Regions from separate parts of the Homo sapiens genome. Here region 2 is linked to region 1. The links come from fine-mapping of genetic effects on gene expression. A gene starts in region 1. The other region holds a variant in brackets. All regions are shown on one strand. Distances are between the middles of the regions.

The links. PIP is the estimated chance that this variant, and not a neighbour inherited with it, causes the effect.
Region 2: its variant is the best candidate, but not a certain one, in a credible set for the expression of RNASE1 in atrial appendage (GTEx, PIP 0.52).

The regions. Positions count from the first base shown.
Region 1 is chr14:20,800,218-20,804,607 of GRCh38, reverse strand. RNASE1 (ribonuclease A family member 1, pancreatic) reads left to right here and starts at 1,764. Exons shown (of 2, transcript NM_002933.5): 1 at 1,764-1,811; 2 at 2,515-3,380. The coding sequence starts at 2,540. The coding sequence ends at 3,010. It overlaps LOC107984671 (a long non-coding RNA gene), which reads left to right and starts at 4,079. Exons shown (of 3, transcript XR_001750624.2): 1 at 4,079-4,390. All of the region lies in intron 3 of LOC105370397 (a long non-coding RNA gene), which reads right to left.
Region 2 is chr14:20,730,688-20,735,077 of GRCh38, reverse strand. All of the region lies in intron 2 of LOC107984671 (a long non-coding RNA gene), which reads left to right. It also overlaps the pseudogene EDDM3DP. Among named protein-coding and RNA genes, the nearest start is that of EDDM3A, 13 kb to the left of the region's middle. The variant G/A (reference allele first, on the strand shown) is at 2,523.

The sequences.
Region 1 (4,390 bases):
AAGGATAAGGCTGCAGTAAGGGCTTCTGATGGTTCCCCATTGAAGTGCAATTAAAGCTCCAAGGGCTTGTCTAGATTGCTATGCATAAATAGACAAAATGGCTTCCTGTAGTTTCAGGATTCCTAGGGCCAGGGGCTGTTGAAGAGCCTTATTATAGTTACAGAAGATCTGTTCACATCTGAACTGTGGTTCTGAAATCATCTTGCTGGGTGGAGGCCACTTTTGTGCAGCCACGCCCAGTGCCTTAGTGGGGTCCACCTGACTAACCAAACCATCCCACCAGGCGCCCTTCAGGTGAGTCCTGTGCCTTATTTATGTCTGTATCCCACAGTCTAATGAATGAATGAACACATTCTAACTTGACTATTCAAGAGAATAAAAGTATTATTAAAGACTCAGAAAAATAAAATACAGGTGGGGGCTGGGGGAGTAAGGAAACTGTAGGGGCCAAGGAAAAATTCCCCTTTCACCCTCCAAAGGTTTGCTGAAAATCAACTGACAAAAGACAGATTGATAGGAAAAAACGCATACAAATTGATTTGATCGTAGTTTTACACGACACGGGAGCCTTCAGAAGACCCAAAGATAACAGGGGAAAGTGGGCATTCTTACACTTGGATATCAACAAAGTATGAACAGCTGTGTAGAAATATGACTGGACAACAGGGCGATCTAATGAAAATAGACTGAGTGGGGAAACCCAGCAAGGCCTCCCTGTCTAGATTCTTCTTGGCCTCTCTGAGCATTCGTCCTTTTTTTCTGGGTATGGGGGGCAGGACCCTCTCTGGAATGAGGATCTTACGACCTACAATCACACAAGGTAGGTCAGATAATTTCACTATGGCCACTTTTTACACAGAAAGGCTGAAACAATCTGAATACACAGCACGAAGGGATATTTTGATAATTCTTAGAGGTATCCAAATTGTTACTCAGCAAAAAAACAGGTCTCTTTCTAGGAGGGCATTCTGCTGCTAATAAATATGATATTCTTTGTATTTTTTCCCCAAAAAGAATTTGAGATTTGGGATTTAAGTTTATCTTTAGTTCCTCTACTCAATTCCGACCTACAGGGTCAGTGGTTACTGTAGATAAGAACAGCCCCATCCTCTCGATGCCCCCAGAGCAGGGGTGGAGGGTGGGTGGGAAGTGGCCAGAACTGGGTGAGCGCACCCTAGAGGCCTCCTCCTCCTCCCTATTCAGTTACTCCCCCTTTCTTCTCCAGATCTGGGAAGCCTTCCAGCTGGGGGCAGCAGGACAGCCTCCATTCCCCCCGACCCCGCCTCCCATCCCCGGGAGAGGTAGCGTTGGGAGAATGCCCTCCTAGAAAGAGACTTGGGTTTTGCTCCCTAGGAGCCCTGGAATAGCTTTGGCCAGAATTCCCTATCTCCCATTAGAACCTCTCCTTTGCGTCCTTTGTTAACCTCCAAGTCTACTTGGTGAAAACGCCCACGAAGAAGTAACAAGGACTTTGTTCCTAGTGTGCCAGGTTTGGGCACCAGTGCTGTAGTGGCTTTCTCTGCTGCTCCTTGTGCATCAGCAGACAGATGTGGTTCACATAGGAAGAAAGACTAACGTAGGCAAAGATTTGCTCTTTCTTCAGCAGCCCTAGAAAGACGGCGGCCTGGGTGATTCACCACTCCTTCCTCACGTCCTTGATTTTATTTGAACTGAGCTCCAGATGCTCCTCCCACCCTTTTCCTCTTGGAAGCCAAACCCCTTTGTAATCTGTATAAGGTCCACACCCCGGGAGCTGAGTGATTGCAGAAACTGGCCTTCCATCTCTCTCAGACACCAAGCTGCAGATCCAGGTAAGCAGCCCAAGAGGTGTTCTCAGGTGCCGCTTCTGCTTCAGGGTTGCAGAAGAGGGAGCTAGGGCCAGTCCACAGCACTGAGAAAGATTGGGTGATGCTAGCGCTGAAAAAATGTGGCCCAGGCAAACATCAGCTGGGGGCAGAGGGGTCAGGGTGGAACGTGCAGGCTGCAGAGCATCCATGGGACTGGAGAAGAAGGAGCCTCCAAATTGGGGGAGGCCAGCGTTTCTCTCTGGAATACAATGGAATCTTTTATGATGCCAGTGTCAGGCACTGGCCTGAGTTCCCTTATGCTCCAAGACAACAAGGCTCTGTCACCCATGGCCCTGGATGTCGGGGATACAATTTGGTTCATGATTTATTCAAACTGATGTTTCGATGAGCCATTTGAGCACTGGGTACAAATGTATTTTGGATCAAAGAAACTCCAGTATTCAAAGATAGGAACTGACAGGATTTTAGGTCACTTTGTAGGTCACCACCTAGAGGGGAGGAAGACCTCGCTTTGGAGAGTGGGAATAAAACGCTCGTGGAAAAGGGTACACGTGAGTGTCTCATTACACGAAAAACCTCAGGAAGTAGGATGGACGTCTTTCTGGCTGACCTGAAACAGAAAGTGTAAACCAGGCAAGCCATAGGTGGGAGCTGGAGTTCTTTTTCTAAGAGGGCTCTTTTCCTTCTCTCTCCTTTTCTCAATTAGGCTTTTCTGGGAAAGTGAGGCCACCATGGCTCTGGAGAAGTCTCTTGTCCGGCTCCTTCTGCTTGTCCTGATACTGCTGGTGCTGGGCTGGGTCCAGCCTTCCCTGGGCAAGGAATCCCGGGCCAAGAAATTCCAGCGGCAGCATATGGACTCAGACAGTTCCCCCAGCAGCAGCTCCACCTACTGTAACCAAATGATGAGGCGCCGGAATATGACACAGGGGCGGTGCAAACCAGTGAACACCTTTGTGCACGAGCCCCTGGTAGATGTCCAGAATGTCTGTTTCCAGGAAAAGGTCACCTGCAAGAACGGGCAGGGCAACTGCTACAAGAGCAACTCCAGCATGCACATCACAGACTGCCGCCTGACAAACGGCTCCAGGTACCCCAACTGTGCATACCGGACCAGCCCGAAGGAGAGACACATCATTGTGGCCTGTGAAGGGAGCCCATATGTGCCAGTCCACTTTGATGCTTCTGTGGAGGACTCTACCTAAGGTCAGAGCAGCGAGATACCCCACCTCCCTCAACCTCATCCTCTCCACAGCTGCCTCTTCCCTCTTCCTTCCCTGCTGTGAAAGAAGTAACTACAGTTAGGGCTCCTATTCAACACACACATGCTTCCCTTTCCTGAGTCCCATCCCTGCGTGATTTTGGGGGTGAAGAGTGGGTTGTGAGGTGGGCCCCATGTTAACCCCTCCACTCTTTCTTTCAATAAAACGCAGTTGCAAACACCTGATTTCTGAAGCGGTTCTGTCTAGGTACTGTTTCTGGCATTGCCTTCCAGCAAGGGGTAAGAACTGTAAATCTGATTCACTTTGGAGAACGGTGAATGGAGTAATTAAATGCCTTCCCTTCTGACTTGGATTTTAGTGGCTTGAGAAAATTCCTTTCCTTGTAGATTCCCTGATGCCAAACATAAAACTGTTAAGTGTGGGCTGTTTTAGACAAAAGGGAGCTACAGCCTGGGACACTGCCATGCAGGGTGAACTGACAGAGGGGTGAAGCTCAAATACAATCATTCTCTGGCACAGAAGGAAGGCAAGTGTGACCTCAGGAAGATCCTGCTTAGCCTCAGGGTGGGGAAGAGGACTCAATGAAATTATGATCCTAAATTTCCATTTTCCTTTTTTTTTTTTGAGTGAGCTATTACTAAATCAGAAAAATGGGCACCTCTTAGTTGGAAAGCCAGAACCTTACATTTTAGAGCCAGAAGTGACTTTGGAGAGCACGGAATTGAGGGATAGCAAGTAGATTTCAGTTTGTGTACCAACTCTAATTGGAAGTGCCGGTCGGGCGTGGTGGCTCACACCTATAATTCCAGCACTTTGGGAGGTTGAGGCAGGTGGATCACCTGAGGTCAGGAGTTCAAGACCAGCCTGACCAGTATGGTGAAACCCCCTCTCTACTAAAAATACAAAAAGTAGTGGGGCGTGGTGGCAGGTGCCTGTAATCCAGCTACTAGGGAGGCTGAGGCAGGAGAATCACTTGAACCTGGGAGGCGGAGGTTGCAGTGAGCTGAGATGGTGCCACTTCACTCCAGCCTGGGCAATAAGAGTGAAACTCTGTTTCAAAAAAAAAAAAAAGGAAGTGCCTACCCAAAATGCTGTAGCAAAAAATTCTGGACAGTGGTGTGGTTGAACAACAGCCTCTATCGAAGGCACGAGAGGGGGAAGGGTGTGTGTGCCACACATTTGCCATCCCTGACCAAATGTGACCCCTGCCTTTCCGGTGACTTGCACATGGCTTGTTGCTAGTTAGTGGCACAGCCGGGACTACACCCTAGGTTTCCTGACTTCCAAGCCATTGTTCTAACTCAGGAAGCCATTGCTCTAACTCAGGAAGAAAGCTCCCCTCCTCAGTAAGTGCTGTGGAGC
Region 2 (4,390 bases), 70 kb after region 1:
GGAGGCAGGGGCCACCACTCGGGAAGCACTGAATACCAATCCCTGAGGATGTGCATGGACCTTCTAGTTACTGATAGGCTCCACCATCCTCAGGTCTCCTATGCTATCAACATACCCATCCTTGCCACAGTGGAATTCAATGTAGTTGAAGATCTCTGTGTAGCTATTGCAGTACTTCTGCCACTGACACTCGAGTACTTTGAGGGCACCCTGGGCCCATACATAGGCATATCTATATCGGTTATTCCCATTTCAATAATGCATATACACTCCATTTTGTGCCATAAGCTATAGATGGACATATGAGAGCTCTTGCGTTTCAGAGCTTCTTTTTCTCTCGTGAGGACATCACATTTGTACTCTTCAAAATCTTGGCTTGGATCTAAATAGTGCAGGGTCATGAATTCTCTCCAGGAAACGTCCTTGCTGTGTACAAGTAGCCTGCAAAGAATGCAAAGCAGGGCCAAGGGACTGCCCCAGATCTTCAGAGAGGATGCCATTTCAGTCACCAGGGACACCTGCGTGTCCACAGGGAAAAGAAAGAAAAGCATCATGTAGACAATGTCCAGAGAGCTGACCTTTATCTTAAAGTTCTGTTTCCTGCCAATGCAAGCACTCAGCACAATTTTACTATTTGGTTCCCTGATTAGAAGATAATTCTCATAAGAGAATAAAGTTTCTAAGAACTAAAAGTATGCTTCATCTTATGTGAGCCAAACACAAAGTTGGAAAAAAATAGATGAAGTTCATTTTGAGAATTTCAAACATCTCCTGTCTACTCTGTCATCCACCCAACCTGCACTGGGTAGAATCACCCAATCACCCTCCAGCTGGCTTCTTTTCATCAGATCAACTCTCAGGAAGTCACGCATGCAATAGAAAATGGCATTTTAAGCTTTTTGTCTGCGAAGTGGAAAGGGCTGTAACTTTTTTTTGCACATTAAATATTAAAGTTTATTAAAAATTGCTCATATTGAAAAACAAAGACATCAATTATACCCACCCCCGCCAACACACAACAAATACACAATCCAGACACAATTATGTTGCTAGTGTCAGCTCAAAATTATTAAGCAAATACTGAAATGTAGATAAGTTCCAGAAAATAGCAAGCAGAGCCTAGAAAACATTTATAAAGCTCTTAGTTGTCATGGTAACAGATAAACTCTGGTATCTGAAATTGTAGAAATCAGAAGTTCAACATTCGTGTGACATTACTTTTCTATGGTTTTTCAAGGGATAAGAGGGAAACTTTTCCAATTAAGTTGTTCCAGGGCCTTCTTGAATTTAACAGATGGCTGTTGCAAAGACATTAATTGAGGTTGTAGGACAAGGGATACGTGGATATTTCCGTTCCCAAAAGAAGTGAGTAGATCTAAAGGCAGAGACTGACTTCCAGGTTAGGCAGCCTGCAGAGCTAGTGCTGATCCATCCTCCTCTATCATGCCCCCCATGAGAGCCATAAACACATGGATGCTGGAGGCAATGCTGTTTTTTGATTCCTGTTTTCATGCATTGCTCACAAGCTGCAGATGCATGCCATGGGCACTGTTGCCTGCCCTCCCCCTCTCCTTGCTCTCCAGGGATGTGCCTTTGCTAATGTACCAGTCAGGATGCTTTTGCTTCCTTTCTTCCTGTCTGGGTCTTCGTCAGCATCTTCTGAGTAATGAGGCTGCTGCTGGGCGGTTCCAGAGACTCCACTTTGGTTCCATCTGGCTGGGGAGGTCTCACAATCATGGCAGATGGCAAAGAGGAGAAAGTTACATCTTATGTGGATGACAGCAGGCAAAAAGAGCAGGGCTGTCACATTTTAGACGAGTGTAGAAGATGAGTGACTACTAGGCAGGTGGTTCTTAGGCAGGAAGGCTTTGATTCTCTGAAATCACAGCCCAGGCTACAATTACACTGACTCTGCAAAATGATGCTTCTCCAATATCTTGACTTCCTTATAACACTTCTCCCAAAGCCTGGGTGGAACATATGGTTACTACTAACTACCCGTATTCCTTCTCAGGGGCCATTCCCCTAATTATCACTATTACAAGTGATCTTCATTTGTCAGAGCTGCTTATTGACGATGCCATCGTAAAAGGACACCAGTTTAGAAATATAGCTGTACTCAATTAGGCATAAAGACTAAAAAAGTCCCCACCGGAGCTACTGTGGTCACAGCCTAGGATGTATGGTTGTTTGAAAAAGTTACCTCTTTAAACAAGCTCTCTGTCCTCATTTGCCATGAGGAGTGTTCCTGGCCCTACTGAACCTCTAACCTGATTCACAGCTCTGAGTATCGGTGTCCTCACCGATGTAGGGCCTAATAACAGCTCCCTACAGACCTGTGAGAGTCTAATGAGATGCATGTATGCGAGAGCACTTCTAACAATGTCAAATGCTCACCTCAGACACAGAACAAAGGGTCGGCGCTTCCTATCTGTGGAACCCTGTCCTGGTGATAAAGACCTACACATGTTAGGAGAGTAGGATGCAAGCAGCTTTAATGCATTGTGGTTGAGGTGACTGGG[G/A]GTGAAGGAAGGGAGGGGCAGGGAAAAGCTTGTATCAGTGGGAATGAGGCTGACTGGAATTCAGGCCTTAGTTTTCCATGATTTGGATCCTTCTCCATTCTTTGCTATCTAAAAGCTCAATCAGGCTGGGGGCAGTGGCTCACACCTGTAATCCCTGCACTTTGGGAGGCCGAGGCAGGTGGATCACTTGAGGTCAGGAGTTTGAGACCAGCTTGGCCAACGTAGTGAAACCCCATCTCTACTAAAAATACAAAAAAATTAGCCTGGCACGGTGGCGTGTGCCTGTAACCCCAGCTACTCAGGAGGCTGAGGCAGGAGAGTCACTTGAACTCGGGAGGCGAAGGTTGTAGTGAGCCAAGATAGTGCCACTGCACTCGAGCCTGGGTGACAAAGCAAGACTCCATCTCAAAAAATTAATACTAGGCCGGGCGTGGTGGCTCACGCCTGTAATCCCAGCACTTTGGGAGGCCAAGGTGGGTGGATCACTTGAGGTCAGGAGTTCGAGACCAGCCTGACCAACATGGTGAAACCCCATCTCTACTAAAAATACAAAATTACCTGGGCGTGGTGGCATGCACCTGTAATCCCAGCTACTAGGGAGGGTGAGGCAGGAGAATTGTTTGAACCTGGGAGGCAGCGGTTGCAGTGAGCCAAGATTGTGCCACTGCACTCCAGCCTGGGCAACAAGAGCAAAACTCTGTCTAAAAAAAGAAAAAAAATTAATACTAACAAATAAATAAAAATAAAAGTTCAATCAGCCTCCTGCCAGTGCTCCTAGTCATCCCCCGAGGGTCCTCAGCAAAGCAGTTCTTACCCTACTCAGACTCTGAGTTCAGGTCACTGGTTATAGTGGGGTTCAATGTGTAGATCTGAAGAGCAGAGTCTGCATCCTCCTCCTTTTCTCAGAGCCCAGGAAATCTGCAGCAGTGGAGAAAGGAATGGCAGGGGGAGATTCAGCGCTTGAGTTGATTGGTAGCAGAGGTGGTGATGGGAAACAGCCTTATTATGTGAGCCTGTTCTTCTATAGTGTCATCTGGAACACTTGGGTTCACTCAGACAGTGGCTTTGAGCAAAGGCCACAAACATCAAAGACTGACTTCAGGGCACAAAAGAACTGAAAGACCCTAGGTGACCCCAGAAAGGGGTTATCTGGCACTAACAGGAGACAACAAGAGATGTGCCTCCCGCATTTAATTTCTGACAAGCTTCTGGGAAGTCTCTGGATGACTAGGCTACATTACATGGGAACTTCACTGAGGAAAACCACATTTAACATTGTGAACTGTAGGGCCTTCATTGAGAGTGAAAGAATGTCTAATGAAACCAATAGCCTGGTAGCTATGAATGATTAGGTAGCCAGTATCTGAAGTTTTTCTAGTCAGCTTATAACTATGACCCTTAGCTGTTTGCTGACGCTGTAGTGCTTACCATTAAAATGTCACGTAGCCTAGCCATAGTTTGCACAATGTTCCTATATATAACGTCTGACTGTGAAGTATGGGTCACAAGGTACTGGCTGAGTTGTTTTTCAGGAACTCAAGATTCAGTCCTGAACTGAGCTCAAACCAGACAAGACCACCTGCCCATGTGAGCGTCCAAGGGGTCACCTTTCCGCGTCACAGCCCAGATTTTTCACCATATGTTTTGTAACAACTACCCTAGAATTGGCAAATGTGACCAATAGTGGTTCATTAAAACTAGTCAAAGGTGCAATTTATGAATAAAGTAAGATACTTGCATATGTTTTCTATCAACACCTCCAAGGGCTGCTCCTAGCCAAGCCATCTTGGTTGATTTTCTCACTGGACCACCTCGTTGTTGGAATATCAGAATGTTTACAACCAGAACTTATCTTCAAAGTGCAGCTC